Linked DNA regions of Homo sapiens: regions 2, 3, 4 and 5 are each reported to be linked to region 1. The links are microRNA targets in miRTarBase. Many come from high-throughput screens and were not tested one by one. Region 1 holds a microRNA gene; each other region holds the end of a gene's coding sequence.

Region 1 (3,000 bases):
ACTTTAAATCAGTGCTAGATCAATTATACTACCTAATACAATCTAAATGCTATGTAGGTAGTTGTTACACTGTATTGTTTAGAGAACAATCACAGGACAAAAAAGCTCTGTTCATGTTCAGTACAGATGCAACCACCCATTTTTTCCCGAATATTTTTGATCCACTGTCGGCTGAATCCCCGCATGCAGAACCCAAGAAGACGGACAGCCAACAATATATTTTGACCCTCATGACAGGCTTGGAGGGTAGGCACTATTATTATTAGCCACGTTTTACAGAAGGGGAAACTGAGGCTTAGAGAGGTGAAGTGCTTTGTTGGAGATCACACAGATGATAAGTGGCTGAGTTTGATCTGGAACTCAGGTCTATCTGATGCCGGAACCCAAGCTCTTAACTACCTCTTCCAAATCTCGACCCCACCCCATACACAGATGGGGAAGCTATGTGCCCCAGGTCAGACAGCTGCTCAGAGTAGTGCCCGGCTCAGACTCCTGGACCATCTCCCAGTCTTGCCCCTGACACCTGGCACAGCCCCTGCTCAGGACTTCCTGCCCAGAAACACAGAGGGCCCCTGCCTGGTAAACAAGGCAAACAGGAAAGGGCCAGCGTGATCTTGTAGGGACCAGTGCTTCCTGAGCCCTCACCCCCACCCACCATGGGATCCCGTCTCTACTCCTCTGTCCAGAAGCTGTCAGAGGTAGGGGACTGAGCATAGGGGCAGGAATCCTCCACACCTGGCTGATTCCTAGCAATGCAGCCCTGGGTTGGGGGTCAGTGGGGAGGTGTTATCTAACTACTTTGTGCCTCACTTTCCTCATCTGTGAAATGGGGAGGCCATTAACACTTGTGAAGACTAAATAAATAAACTTGCAGTGGCTCATGCCTGTAATCCCAGCACTTTGGGAGGCCAAGGTGGGCGGATCACCTGGGGTCAGGAGTTCAAGACCAGCATGGCCAACATGGTGAAACCCCGTCTCTGCCAAAAATACAGAAATTAGCCAGGCGTGGTGGTGAATGCCTGTAATCCCAGCTACTTGGGAGGCTGAAGCACAAGAATTGCTTGAACCCAGGAGGAGGAGGTTGCAGTGAGCCAAGATGGCGCCACTGCACTCCAGCCTGGGTGACACAGCAAGACTCTGTCTCACAATAAATAAACTCACATAAAGCACTCAGAACAGAGCTTTGTTACTACCTGACTGTTATTCCTTCCCTTTAGGGTAGTGGTTAAACTTTGGTGTGCTTCTGAATAGCCCAAAACTTTAAAAGGCAGATTTCCTGGGGCCTGCCCTCAAATATTCTGATTTGGAAGAGGCAAGGTGGAGCTGAGGGAATTTGCATTTTAACGTGGAGCTGAGGGAATTTGCATTTTAACAAGCGCTGCCCCTTGCTCCCTCTCTGTGAAACACCGCTTAAGGCACTGAACTCAGCGTTCTAGTAGGCTGGTGCAAAAGTAATGCAGTTTTTGCCACTGAAAGTAATACCAAAGACCGCAATTACTTTTGCACCAGCTAACTATTCACTGGCTGCCCACCTGGGCCAGGCTCAGGAATGCAATCATCGTGGAGTGCAGGGGTCAGGAGTGTAGACCTAAAGTTGGACAGACCCAGGCGATCTTGGTGTGGCCACTCACCAGTGGCCTTGAGCCAGTGACTTCTTGTCTCTGAGCCTCACTCACCTGTTATAACGTTTAACATTTCCAAAATAAGTCTGAAAACGGCACCTACCTTGTGGAGCTGTTGTGAAGCTGGCAAAGAGTGTGAGCTCAGAGGCATCAGCTACAATTCTGTACCATTATTTATTAGGACGGACACAGTCCTGCCCATAATGAGTGTCACGGCCATTGAGCCGGCAGACAATCAACCCAGTGGGATGGATGCCCAGACAGACTGGGGTGTGCAGGAGGCGGTGGGAACACGTTCAGGGCACGCTGGAGCACCCAGTGTCACGTCCTGCCCAGAAGACCTAATAACACCCAACAGACAGGCACCACAACAAAGTGGCATCGACTCCCACTGCAGGCCTCCCACGGCAACCCTGTGGGGGAGACAGCCCCTCTCTGGCTGGATCATGAATAAGAAATCCAGAGGCGGAATGGGCTGCTCACACTCTGCTCACACTCACACAGCAGGTGCAGGGCAGCATGAGGACTCAAACCCAGGTCTAATGGGTTCTTCCACCATTTTGTGCCATGGATCTCTTCAACCATCTGGTGAAATCTATGGGCCCCTTCCCAGAATAATGCTTTTAAATGGAATACAATAAAATATACAGGATGAAAAGGAAACCAACATAGTAAACTTTGGCTAAGAATGTGATTACAAAAATTGCTGTGAAATATTATCTGTAACCTATCTGCTCCTTTATTAAAGCAATCAATAACAAGATCTAGTAGCAGACAGAATAATCACTGTCATCTGCAAGCAGACACATCTGTGGCACCTAAAATGTGATATAAAAATATGGGCCAGGAGCAGTGGCTCATGTCTATAATCCCAGCACCTTGGGAGGCCGAGGTGGGCGGATCACCTGAGGTCAGGAGTTCAAGACCAGCCTGGCCAACATGGTGAAACCCCGTCTCTACTAAAATACAAAAAAATTAGCCAGGCGTGGTGGCAGCCACCTGTAATCCCAGCTACTTGGGAGGCTGAAGCAGGTGAATCACTTGAATCTGGGAGGCAGAGGTTGCAGTGAGCCGAGATCGCGTCATTGCACCCTAGCCTGGGCGACAAGAGCGAAACTCCATCTCAAAAAAAAAGTGTGGTTTCTACTGGTGATGCGAGTGCTGCCACTACTACTGTGATTTATCACCTATGTTGTCACCTGGAGGAAATGTTAAACTAGGGTCAATAAAGATGTAATTTTCCCCTCATCCAAATTCCTAGGCCCCCGAATGCAGCCTGGAACCCCAATTAAGAATCGCTGCCAGCATCTGGCTCCGTTATGGACACAAAATCTATGGCTGTTAGGGCCAGGGAGCCATGGTCCTGCCTCAGGAGTCT
Region 2 (3,000 bases), not on the chromosome of region 1:
ATAGAATATTTTGAGTGCTGTAGAACATGCCTTTGTGGCTTTTGTAGTCATCTTCCCTGCTACCAGAGGCAACTTCTGACTTCACTATAAATTAGTTTTGTCTTTTCGTGGACTTACGTGTAAATGGATTTGTGAGTCGACTGTTGTAACCAATACTCAAACGAAGATATAAAGAAAATTAACTTTTTATGATTTTTTCCATTTACACTGATGTGCCTGTTCATATTCCTTTCTGCATCAGGTCACAGCCTAATTAATCAAAAGATAAATTGCCACAAGAGAGGTGATGGTTGTCTATAAGACACTAAATATTACTGTAGGGGGCTTTTGCCTTGTTTCATTTTTTTTTTTTTTTCCTCCCAGAAAGCGGCGTGGAGCTTTTAACAGCAAGCAACTTCTGTATTTGGAGAAGTATCGTCCTAAAATGCGGCTGCGTTTCAAAGATTCCAACGGTCATAGAAACAACTGTTGCATTCAATAAAATTGGGGTGCCTAATGCTACTGGAAGTGGAACTTGAGATAGGGCCTAATTTGTTATACATATTAGCCAACATGTTGGCTTAGTAAGTCTAATGAAGCTTCCATAGGAGTATTGAAAGGCAGTTTTACCAGGCCTCAAGCTAGACAGATTTGGCAACCTCTGTATTTGGGTTACAGTCAACCTATTTGGATACTTGGCAAAAGATTCTTGCTGTCAGCATATAAAATGTGCTTGTCATTTGTATCAATTGACCTTTCCCCAAATCATGCAGTATTGAGTTATGACTTGTTAAATCTATTCCCATGCCAGAATCTTATCAATACATAAGAAATTTAGGAAGATTAGGTGCCAAAATACCCAGCACAATACTTGTATATTTTTAGTACCATACAGAAGTAAAATCCCAGGAACTATGAACACTAGACCTTATGTGGTTTATTCCTTCAATCATTTCAAACATTGAAAGTAGGGCCTACATGGTTATTTGCCTGCTCACTTTATGTTTACATCTCCCACATTCATACCAATATACGTCAGGTTTGCTTAACCATTGATTTTTTTTTTTTTTTACCAAGTCTTACAGTGATTATTTTACGTGTTTCCATGTATCTCACTTTGTGCTGTATTAAAAAAACCTCCATTTTGAAAATCTACGTTGTACAGAAGCACATGTCTTTAATGTCTTCAGACAAAAAAGCCTTACATTAATTTAATGTTTGCACTCTGAGGTGCAACTTAACAGGGAGGGCCTGAGAAAAGAATGGGAGGGGGCTATTAATTATTTTTAGCAAAATGTTGCCTTTGTCTTGTGCAAACATGTAGAATATGCTCTTTAATTTAGTAAAATATTTTTTTAAAAGGTAGAGATGCTTTGTTATTGTAATCATAAACTTCCTGAAATTCTTGTAATTTTTTTCCCATACTTATCAGAAGTGTGTTTACCAACTTATTTTTGTTTGAAAGTGTGATTTTTTTTTTCCTTCCCAACCTCTCTTGCAAAAAAAGAAATGGGTTTCTGCTAATGAATTGAGCAGACATCTAATATTTTATATGCCTTTTGAGCTGTGTAACTTAATATTTGGATACTTGACAATTTGTTTTATTATGTAATTGATAAAATGGTGATGTGTATTAATGTTAGTTCAACCATATATTTATACTGTCTGGGGATGTGTGGTTATAGTTCTGTGGGAGAAATAATTTTGTCAGTGTTCACCAGCTTGTAAAAACTTAGTGCGAGAGCTGAAACATCTAAATAAATAATGACATGCATTTATCATCATTGAGATTGGTTTGCTTAAAATTAACTTATTTTGTAGAAGACAAAATGAATTGCACTTCACTTAATGTGTGTCCTCATCTTTTTACAAATAAATGAAGGATTATAAATGATGTCAGCATTTTAGTAAACTTTTAGACAAAATTTGTTAGGGTCATTCATGAAAACTTTAATACTAAAAGCACTTTCCATTATATACTTTTTAAAGGTCTAGATAATTTTGAACCAATTTATTATTGTGTACTGAGGAGAAATAATGTATAGTAGAGGACAGCCTTGGTTTGTAAAGCTCAGTTCCACTAGTTCATGGTTTTGTGCAACTTCTGAGCCTCAGTTTTCTCCTTTGCAAATTAATAATTACATACCTTTATAGATTTTGAAATTAATTTAAATATTAGTATTTGGTACATGAAGGCTTAATGTTAAGTTTCCTTTAATGATCCACAATAATCCCTTTGATCACGTTAATCTAAATCTAGATGTCTTTGTCTAATTTTTTTTGAATAGCAGTTATAAATGTAAAGGACTCAAAGTTTAAGTAAAAAGTGATACTCCACCTTGTGTTTCAAAGAATTTAGTTCCACCTCTTCATACCAGTTTAACACTTAATATATTTCATTGGATTTTAGACAGGGCAAAAGGAAGAACAGGGGCCTCTGGAGGCCCTTGGTTATTTAAATCTTGGATTATTTGTGATAGTAATCACAAATTTTTGGCTAATTTTTAACCTGAGGTTTTGTTTTTTTTTTAAAGGAAATGCAGCCTAGTCTTGAGAACATAATTTTATATAATCAATTACTAAATGTTAAACTATTACCACACAGCCCATAAAACAGCATTTGCGTTTATTGAGAGAGAGGATGTGCCATCATGATTAATGAAAACTATCTTTTGAGTTTGAAAAGAAATTAATTTGCAGTGTTTGGATTGTATATATGGTGCTAAAAATAAATTAATTTACTTTATAAACCTTATCTGTACATTATACGATGTGATGAAATTTGCTTTTTATCCAAATATTTTGTATCTTGTAAATATGGCTAATTATAGGAATGCCTATAATACATCTTAGATTCCTTATATCTAATAAGAGTTCAAAGAGTTATGAGTTGAAGTCTTGAATGCAGGAAACTATCTGATAGTGTTCTAAAATTTGGTTACTTGGGTTTGGATACCCTTAGTGGGATGATGTAAATAGAGGCTAGCTACCTAGGCTTGTCTATAGCAACCATAATGTTGA
Region 3 (3,000 bases), not on the chromosome of region 1:
CTCAAGAACAATTCCACTGCTTATTCAACAAGGGGAAATAGAATAGAAATTTCTTACGAAAATTTACAGGTCACAAATATTACTAGAAAGGGAAGCATGTTACCAGTGAGCTGTAAGTTACCGAATATGGGTACTTCCCAGAGTTACCTTTCCTCATCTATGCCAGCTGGTTGTGTTTTGCCAGTAGGTGGTAATTTTGAGATCTTGTTACATTACTATCTTCTCAATTATGCCAAAAAATGCCATCAATCAGAAGAAACCATGGTTAGTATGATAATAGCTAATGCACTTTTAGGCATTCCCAAAGTCCTTTATAAATCTAAAACAGGAAAGTACAGCTTTCCACATACATATATAAGAGCTGTCCATGCACTGCAAACCAATCAACCCTTGGTAAGCAGTCAGACAGGTTTGGAATCAGTAATGGGTAAATACCAGCTACTAACTTCAGTTCTTCAGTGTTTGACAAAAATATTAACCATTGACATGGTAATCACTGTTAAGAGACACCCTCAGAAAGTTCACAATCAAGATTCAGAAGATGAACTATAACATCAGAAGTTTTTAATTAACCAAACTTTTCATCTAACTCAAGCCAAGTAAAGCAGTCATGTGACCACTGGTTCTAAAGTCAGTTCAGTCTACTTAGGAAAATAGCGTAACTTTAAAAGTCTTTAGAAGAAGCACACTAAGGTCACCAGACCAGATACAAATATTAAATTACTTTATGGAACAAATCTAGAGGGGAAGCCAAGATTTGGCTAAGTGTGTCTGTTTTTTCCCTATTTTATGCCTCTGTGTCTCAGCTCTGTGTTAGCCTATGTGTTTAGGGGAGGGTTTTTCTTTATAGCTCCTTTTTACTCTCCTGTATCTTTTTCACTCCAGCCCTCCTTCATCGTTACATGTTTAGTTCATAGAATCATTTAATCTCTGATTTGGGTGGGCTTATTCTAATTGTTTTTAATATTGAATACATTATTTGCATTAATTTTCCCTACTCATACTTTGTAAAGCTGAGTAAAAGGCTCAAATTATTTTTTTCAAAAAGCATAAAATTAAATTAGCAGTGAGTAAAAGGCTCAAATTTTTTTTCAAAAAGCATAAAATTAATTTTTACTTTTATGTGGTCATTGGTTTACTGCCACTTCATTTGGAAAACTTGGATAGATTTTCACCTTTGATATACCTTTGAATATATGTTACCTGAAATATAACTGTGCATTGTTAACTCTTTCATTTCTGTAGTAAAAGGTTAATACTAGAAAGGATATGCAATTAATACTTTGATTTTCTCCTGACCCCAAGAGCTTGTAAGGATATGTCATGTATTTACTGGTTTTTCTTGTATCTGGTGCATAGCCAGAGTTCCACAGTAACAAATAATTTGACAATTTTTATTTCTAATGTTTATTTCTGTTTTATTTTTAATTTTTATTTCTAATTTATTTCATTTACAAATGTTCATATTTTAAAAACTTGTCAATGTAAATAATATGATGCATCTTATCATGGACAAGGACAGTGTTTTCTACCTTTATCAGTTCTCTGTAATACCCAAAACAGTGCTGTATTTACTCCAAGTATTCAGAAGTGCTTGTTGAACAAAACAGTGTTATCTTTAATTCATTCCTTTAAATACATGTTTCCAGTTTACTTATTCAACAGATTCTTACTTGGGATTGACTGAAGAAAAAAAACTTTAATTATAGTTGAATAAGTGTTGACTAATGTATTTTAAAAACTATAATATCAAAATTTTTTATATTAAATGTAATTCTGATTTTTTAAACATTTATGCTATATGATGCATTATTTTGTTTCTGTGAATATGGAGAGAATAAATTAGCTCTTTTGCTGAATTCATGGATGAATGAACTTTAAAACTGCTGCATAATTTTTTTCATTTTTTTTTTAATTGCCTTTCAGGTCATTTGGTCACTTTGCTTTTTTTGTGGTTGTTTAAAACACTCCTCCATTACTGTAAGCATTTAATGACTTCCAGACATGCCCAGTGCTTTGCATATGATAAGCATTTAATAGGTATAGTCACTAGTCCAGGAGCCCTGTTGAGGTAGGACTGGGTCTTTGTACGTTTGGCACTTGGTCTAATATCTTACACACAATAGATGCCTATTGAGGGCCTATTTGTTGAATGAATCTGTCATTTGGTCCTCATAGATGAGATTATAATTTCTATAAACTTTCATGGGCAAAGGATCTATTTTGGGGAGGAGCAGAAAGTGTAGAACAGATCTACACAAAGTAATCCTTTTCCTTTTCATTAAAAGAAACCCCTCAAAAATGGTGGTAAAACTTTCATGGATTTATCCTTATTTACAGAATAACACTAGAGAGTTTACATCACTGAGTTAGATAGGAAAGCACTTTTAAAAATGTAATTACATTATACTTATACCCTCTACCACAAAGGATGTGAAGTGACCTGCAATAAGAACAGACCATCCCCACCCAAGAAAAGGAACAGACAAAATTACAGTAAAATCTGAATGAAAATTAAAGAATCAAGACCAAGGAAAATGTAAAGGCCAGTTAAAATCAAAATCAAGATCATGTTTCTATTTTTTACTGCTGCATAATGAATAATCCCAAAACTTAGTTTTTTTGAATCATTATGTTATTTACTTGTGGTTCTGGGGGTTGACTGGGCTTAACTGGACAACTTTCACTGCATTCTGTTGTTTGAGCAGTCATAAGCATCACCTGAGGTTCAAAGGAGAAGAATGCAGGCCCCACCACTCAATGGGAACAGTGTCAGTGTCACATCATAAGAGCATGTGGGATGGGATATATTGAGGCAGCTATCTTTGGAAAATACAATCTGCTACACCATGGGAGGGAAAAGACAAATACGCATTAACTTCTCAACTGCGTTTCTTTTTATTATTAAGTTACATGTCGATCCACCTCCCACAAACACATTTTCTCCAATAACCTTTATAGACCTTCTTATTTTTTCTCATTGGGCCAGCATGAGCCATT
Region 4 (3,000 bases), not on the chromosome of region 1:
CCATGAGTTAAAAAATTATTTTTCCTGTTTTATTTCTGCATGAACCTAAGTCACATTGACCCAGTAATTGATATATGTGTGATTATTGCAATTAAGTATAAGAAGGTAGAATATATAGTTTTATTAGACAGATGCTTCTGAAATATTAATTTTGTATGTTTTTACTATATCCTTTTTGTGTATCTACAGATACAACAGACATGCAAGAGAATGGACTCAGAAATATGCAATGTAAAAATCAAAAACATTTTCATATATACCAGAGTACTGTAAAATCTAGGTTTTTTTCAACATTAGCAGTAAATTGAGCACTGTTTACTGTTTCATTGTACCATGAAACCATTTGATTTTTACCCATTTTAAATGTGTTTCTGAAGCAAGACAAAACAAACTTCCAAAAATACCCTTAAGACTGTGATGAGAGCATTTATCATTTTGTATGCATTGAGAAAGACATTTATTATGGTTTTTAAGATACTTGGACATCTGCATCTTCAGCTTACAAGATCTACAATGCAGCTGAAAAGCAACCAAATTATTTTTTGCTGAAACTAGATGTTTTTACATGAGAAATACTGTATGTGTTGTCTAAGATGTCAGTTTTATAAATCTGTATTCAGATTTCATTCTTTGTTAGCTCACTTTATAATTTGTATTTTTTTACTGTATAGACTAAATATATTCTATTTACATGTATGTCAACTCATTACTTTTTTCCTGTGAACAGTATTGAAAAACCCCAACGGCTGATAATTAAGTGAATTAACTGTGTCTCCCTTGTCTTAGGATATTCTGTAGATTGATTGCAGATTTCTTAAATCTGAAATGATCTTTACACTGTAATTCTCAGCATACTGATTATGGAGAAACACTTGTTTTGATTTTGTTATACTTGACTTAACTTTATTGCAATGTGAATTAATTGCACTGCTAAGTAGGAAGATGTGTAACTTTTATTTGTTGCTATTCACATTTGAATTTTTTCCTGTATAGGCAATATTATATTGACACCTTTTACAGATCTTACTGTAGCTTTTTCCATATAAATAAAATGCTTTTTCTACTATTTGTCTTGATTACTTAAAAAAATAAAAATATAAGTAAGGATCAAAACTCTAAAATTTTGCATGAAAATTACATCCAAATTGTGAAAATCAGATCTATTTTGTTTGCCATTAGTCACCATTAGTTATATAAATTTTATTGTTTTAGGTTAGTATCTCTTTACTAAATTGTCAGTCTATAAGATAATATATGTTGATCCCTTGCTGTAGAGGAGAATTTAGAGTAATTTGGGGTTTGTCTTGGATTATATCTAAATGGATTATTTGTTAAAAGTACTGAAATGAGTATAAGGCAGTATCACCCATCCAAAAGAAAGGTCTTTATAGACCTGCACAGTCACTAGATTAATTCATTAAAATGCCCCCACCCTGATGTAATTGACATTACATTTCTTAACATTTTAAAATCTAGAATTTCTAAAATGGAATTTAATGCCATCACAATTTGAAAAACTTTTTTTTTTTTTTTACTATAGAAGTTACAAAGGAAGTTCTAAAATTATGCCTCCCTCTGTTTTTATAAGTTGCCATCGAAAAGTGATTTAAATAAGCAGGTTATCTTTATAGATTTTAAAGAAAACTAGAAAGTTTTAATGTTTTAACTTGGGGAAAAATACATCTCTTTAATGTTTAGCATGCTTGTCAACCTTGAGTGAGTGTCATTTTTAAGAACAGTTGTAGCCCTTCTGATTATTGCAGTAGCTGTAGAAGTATGTAAGAATATGTGATGGGTGTAGTCATTAGCAAAGCATTTAAATCACTTGAGTATTTTGTCATGGTTCATTATTATTAAAGCACAAAATAACCTATTGTTAGAAAATATGTGTTTTTATAAATGAATGTAAAATAATTAAATGAATTGTGAAATGGATGTTTAAGAAAATATAGGCTTAAAAAGTAAATCTATAAAATGATGTCTTAAAACAGCCATATCATGAAAAATTCTACTTAGCTATATTATTATAAGCTACATTTGCCCTGAATTTGAACACTCAACATCACTAGATTTAAATATTTAGTATATTTTGATAGTAAAGGGTTTTGTTTCTTGAATATCTTCACTTTAAACAAAAAAAAAAAACAACTTTCATTTGTGTGGCATTTATTTTTGGAAGTGTCTTCTTTTTTTTCTTTATTAAAGTTTTTGAAACTTGCCTAACTTGTTTGCCTTTGCTTACATCTGGATTGTACTGGACTTGAGGAGTAAGCAGAAGTTCTCATAATTAGCTAAAAACCTTGAGTTCCATAGTGGCGTCATGATCGGTCAGAACACCATTTTGGGTATATTATTTTTGCTTAACTCTAACAAGGAGAACATCAGTTACCTTTTAAAACTGTAGAATAAAAGTCAGGGCCTTTTGTGGATTAAGCATTAATTTAAGGACTTCCTTGGAGTGAGAGAAATAGGTAGTCTTTTGGGGATTTAGGATCCCACTTCTTGAAGTTGCATAGTTGAAAACCATGTTCAAATTGGATTCTGAACGCTTATAACTGCCATATACAGCAGTTACCCACATCAGTGACATGGGTTGTAAGGGGCAGCCTCACCACCATCCTCCAACTATCTCAAAAGCGTACAATTCCTGAAGTACAAGCTTTACATATATGCCTCCGTCAACCTTATTTATTAATTTTTGCATTATTTCCCTGTTTCACCCCTTTTAAACGCTGATAGGGAAAATTAAAAATTATAAATGAACTGCATATCAAGGACAACTCTAAGAGTTAACGTTCAAAAGTTACTTTTCATAAGAAAAAAATAATACATTGCAGTTTTAAATTTTTCTTATTTATCACAGTGATCTATCTAATGATTCAGTCATTGATGTTTGTCAAGATCCTGCTCTCCCACAGTTCTGTATTTTTTAAATGGAGAGATTAAGGAAATTAATTTTCCTCCCAAATTAAAAGAAATTATTGGTCATGAAACTATATC
Region 5 (3,217 bases), not on the chromosome of region 1:
TCCCAGCTACTCGGGAGGCTGAGGCAGGAGAATTGTTTGAACCCGGGAGGCGGAGGTTGCAGTGAGCCAAGATCGCGCCATCGTGTTCCAGCGGGGGCAACAAGAGCGAAACTCCGTCTCAAAAAAAAAAAAAATCATTATCCTTAAGAGGTGATTAGGAAAGATTGAATTCTTTATATGGAAATAAACTTGAGCTTTAAATTCTTAATTTTTTTTCCAAAATGGAAATAGCTGTGTTGTTTTAAGAAACTTTATGCACACAGAACATTTTAATTTTTTAAAAACAATTGCGGTGGTTTTTACTGTATCTTTTTATATTTTATTTCAGGTGTCGCACCTCCTTCTTTTGTAGCCATTAAGGCAGGAACAACACTGTATCAACTTACAACAGCAGGAGAAGCTGTTTCCTGGAACTCAATATTTATTCTGATGATCTTGGCTGTTCTTTCTATTCTGCCAGCCATCTTCCAAAAAAAACTAAAGCAGAAATTTGAGTAAAAATAATCATCTGATTTTTAGTTTTGCTGTCATCACCATCTCAGGATTAACAGGTGCATCCATTTATGTTTTAAAATCACCTCTTCAGTAATTAAACAAGGAATTTGTAAAATAAAATTTCCTATCAGATAGTTAAAGTAATACATTTAAGTGACAAGGGGAGAAGAAAGTAAAAATGGAAATTGGTATACTGTGAAAAGTGCTATCAATAGTTAAGGTAGACATCTTAGACATCTTATAAATTATTATACCAAGGGTAGCTGTAGATAATAGTAGTGTGGTAGGAAATTGTTGATCCAGCTAATTCATTCAATTTAATTGAATATTTTTTATCTTTAATAACTAAAATAGATATTTTTAAATTCTAGATTTTTTAAAGTAGTGTTGCAGGTTTTGTTAATGTTAGGCTTTTTTCAGAGCATAAACTGGAAAACTTAAAAAGAGATTTACATTTTCTTCCTCTTTTTTTTTTTTTTTTTTTTTCTGTTTTGAGACGGAGTCTAGCTCTGCCGCCCAGGCTGGAGTGCAGTGGCGCGATCTCCACTCACTGCAAGCTCCACCTCCTGGGTTCACGCCATTCTCCTGTCTCAGCCTCCTGAGTAGCTGGGACTACAGGCGCCCGCCACCATGCCCAGCTAATTTTTTTGTATTTTTAGTAGAGACGGGGTTTCACCGTGTTAGCCAGGATGGTCTCGATCTCCTGACCTCGTGATCTGCCCGCCTTGGCCTCCCAAAGTGCTGGGATTACAGGCGTGAGCCACCGCGCCTGGCCCATTTTCTTCCTCTTTTGAGGTAATGGATTTGTTTGGAGATGGCATGTTAGTAGACGACTGAATATGGAAAGGATATCAAGTTATCTATTTTGTTAATTTTATTTTTGTTTTTTATCATCTAGATTTTTATCATGGATTAGTCTGAAATTTAAAGTTCTGGCCAGTCGGTTTTCTTTCATCTTGTAGTTTTTACAGTATTTCCACTGTGCATATGCAAAATGGGTATTACATAACTGTATCATATTTGGTATTGATAATTTTTTTTTTTTTTGAGACGGAGTCTTGCTGTTGCCCAGGCTGGAGTGGAGTGCGTGGTGTGATCTCGGCTCACTGCAAACTCCGCCTCCTGGGTTCAAGCGATTCTCCTGGCCCAGCCTCCTGAGTAGCTGGGATTACAGGTGTGTGCCACCGTGCCCAGCTAATTTTTGTGTTTTTAGTAGAGACGGGGTTTCACCATGTTGGCCGGGCTGGTCTTGAACTCCTGACCTCAGGCTATATGCCCACTTCCACCTCCCAAAGTGCTGGGATTACAGGCATGAGCCACTGTGCCCAGCCTGGTATTGATAATTTATATTCAGATAATTTGTTATGGCTCTTTAATATCCCACAAGGGGCTCTAAAAAGCAAACATTCAAGAGTATGTAGTTTTTAGACATTAAGTTAATTATTTTAAACAGTGACAGCAAAACACAAGTGATTAAATATAGTTTATTTGTTCCAATGACTAAATTTTACCTCATTTATTAATCTGGTCATTAAGGAATATATTTAATAATATTATGTAATTATTCTTTTTATGCATGATACACCTAGAAAAATGCCTTTTGTTTCTATTGATGGCTTTGTTGTTTGGAGCTACTTTTGATTACTTATTGCAGTTTCCCAATTTAGTCTTTACTTTATCTAACTCACAAAGTAAAATTAACTGATCACATGGCAACTACTGTATTTAAATAGTTCTGGAAAAATGAAAGTGCTTTTTGCTGCTTGGTAAATGGGTAATGCCCTTGATTCCTTGACTGTAGGACATAGCTGATCTAAAGTACTCTGTCAGTTTTACCTTCACCCATGACTGTTATTAGTTGTCAAAGTTGAAAAGTACTTTAGCTGTGAGAAATCCTTGTATGTTTTTATTATAAGAGGTATAATCATCCTCAAAGCCTGTTTTTATTACATGATGTGGACTGATTATTTTTTCTATCACAGTGTTAACAGATGGATTTTATTGTAAATACAAAGAAAACATATTGATTATTGTAGTATTCTTATGTCACCTGGCCTTTTGCGTGAGATTATTTATTATTTCTAGCAAGGCTTTCTTCCTTTCTTATTGCCCAGAGACTGACTGATACATCTTTTGTTATTTTTACACATAAATTAAACATAGCCTTTTTGGACAAATTCACTAAATATTAATGTATAAAATGTAATTGAGTAAATTTTTATCAGAATTTTAAAAATAAAAGAGCTTAGACTCAGTAGAACTCAGTAGAAGCTTCACTATTTACTCCAGCGTGTGTAAATTGTACTTACTCTATTCTCAGAGTATATTTACTGTCCTTACCATTGATTCTTTCCCTTTGCTAATTTTTTTTTTTGTTAATGGTAGCTGCGACTTTAGGTGGGGTATATTTTCTTCTCCTAAGAGAATAGACAGTTTTTCCAGATTCATCATCATTGACTGTCAAGAAAGGACCCTTCAGCAAGGCTGTACCCTCAATGCAGTTGATGGCCTGTCTTCACGGATTTACAGACTTGGCCTGATGCCCATGTAAATTCAAGCTTTGGCTTGTGGTAACAACCACAAGAAGACAAGCATCTGTGGTGCGGAGGCAAGCAGGCTAACTAGGAGTTGACAAGCTAAGAAAGTGAAACTGTTCTTTCTTAGTTAACTGTCTTTCTCTGGAGCTCTGTTATTTTGAGTATAATATTTCCATGACACTTAG

Evidence for each region. Region 1 holds the annotated microRNA hsa-miR-548j-5p (AAAAGUAAUUGCGGUCUUUGGU, at 1,481-1,502, opposite strand). A microRNA usually pairs through its seed, bases 2 to 8, with sites in the 3' UTR of a target mRNA and lowers its output. Matches are read on the target gene's strand: a 7mer-m8 pairs with bases 2 to 8, a 7mer-A1 pairs with bases 2 to 7 and ends in A, and an 8mer does both.
Region 2: the mRNA of PTP4A1 is a reported target of hsa-miR-548j-5p. Seed matches in the 3' UTR shown: 8mer at 2,718-2,725.
Region 3: the mRNA of BBS10 is a reported target of hsa-miR-548j-5p. Seed matches in the 3' UTR shown: 8mer at 721-728 and 7mer-m8 at 1,114-1,120.
Region 4: the mRNA of UBE2D1 is a reported target of hsa-miR-548j-5p. Seed matches in the 3' UTR shown: 7mer-m8 at 707-713.
Region 5: miRTarBase lists TMEM41B as a target of hsa-miR-548j-5p. Seed matches in the 3' UTR shown: 8mer at 2,166-2,173 and 7mer-A1 at 2,371-2,377.

The regions. Positions count from the first base shown.
Region 1 is chr22:26,553,794-26,556,793 of GRCh38, forward strand. It overlaps MIR548J (microRNA 548j), which reads right to left and starts at 1,530; the gene lies at 1,419-1,530. The region is part of intron 1 of TPST2 (tyrosylprotein sulfotransferase 2); the gene reads right to left. RefSeq lists an enhancer at 1,994-2,963.
Region 2 is chr6:63,579,694-63,582,693 of GRCh38, forward strand. PTP4A1 (protein tyrosine phosphatase 4A1) reads left to right here. Exons shown (of 6, transcript NM_003463.5): 6 at 364-3,000. The coding sequence ends at 481. LOC128125822 reads left to right here. Exons shown (of 2, transcript NM_001415059.2): 2 at 1-3,000. Among named protein-coding and RNA genes, the nearest start is that of PTP4A1, 8.7 kb to the left of the region's middle.
Region 3 is chr12:76,343,365-76,346,364 of GRCh38, reverse strand. BBS10 (Bardet-Biedl syndrome 10) reads left to right here. Exons shown (of 2, transcript NM_024685.4): 2 at 1-1,891. The coding sequence ends at 552. Among named protein-coding and RNA genes, the nearest start is that of BBS10, 3.6 kb to the left of the region's middle.
Region 4 is chr10:58,368,531-58,371,530 of GRCh38, forward strand. It overlaps UBE2D1 (ubiquitin conjugating enzyme E2 D1), which reads left to right. Exons shown (of 7, transcript NM_003338.5): 7 at 190-2,218. The coding sequence ends at 235. Among named protein-coding and RNA genes, the nearest start is that of TFAM, 15 kb to the right of the region's middle.
Region 5 is chr11:9,280,705-9,283,921 of GRCh38, reverse strand. It overlaps TMEM41B (transmembrane protein 41B), which reads left to right. Exons shown (of 7, transcript NM_015012.4): 7 at 329-3,217. The coding sequence ends at 498. Among named protein-coding and RNA genes, the nearest start is that of TRL-CAA5-1, 7.1 kb to the right of the region's middle.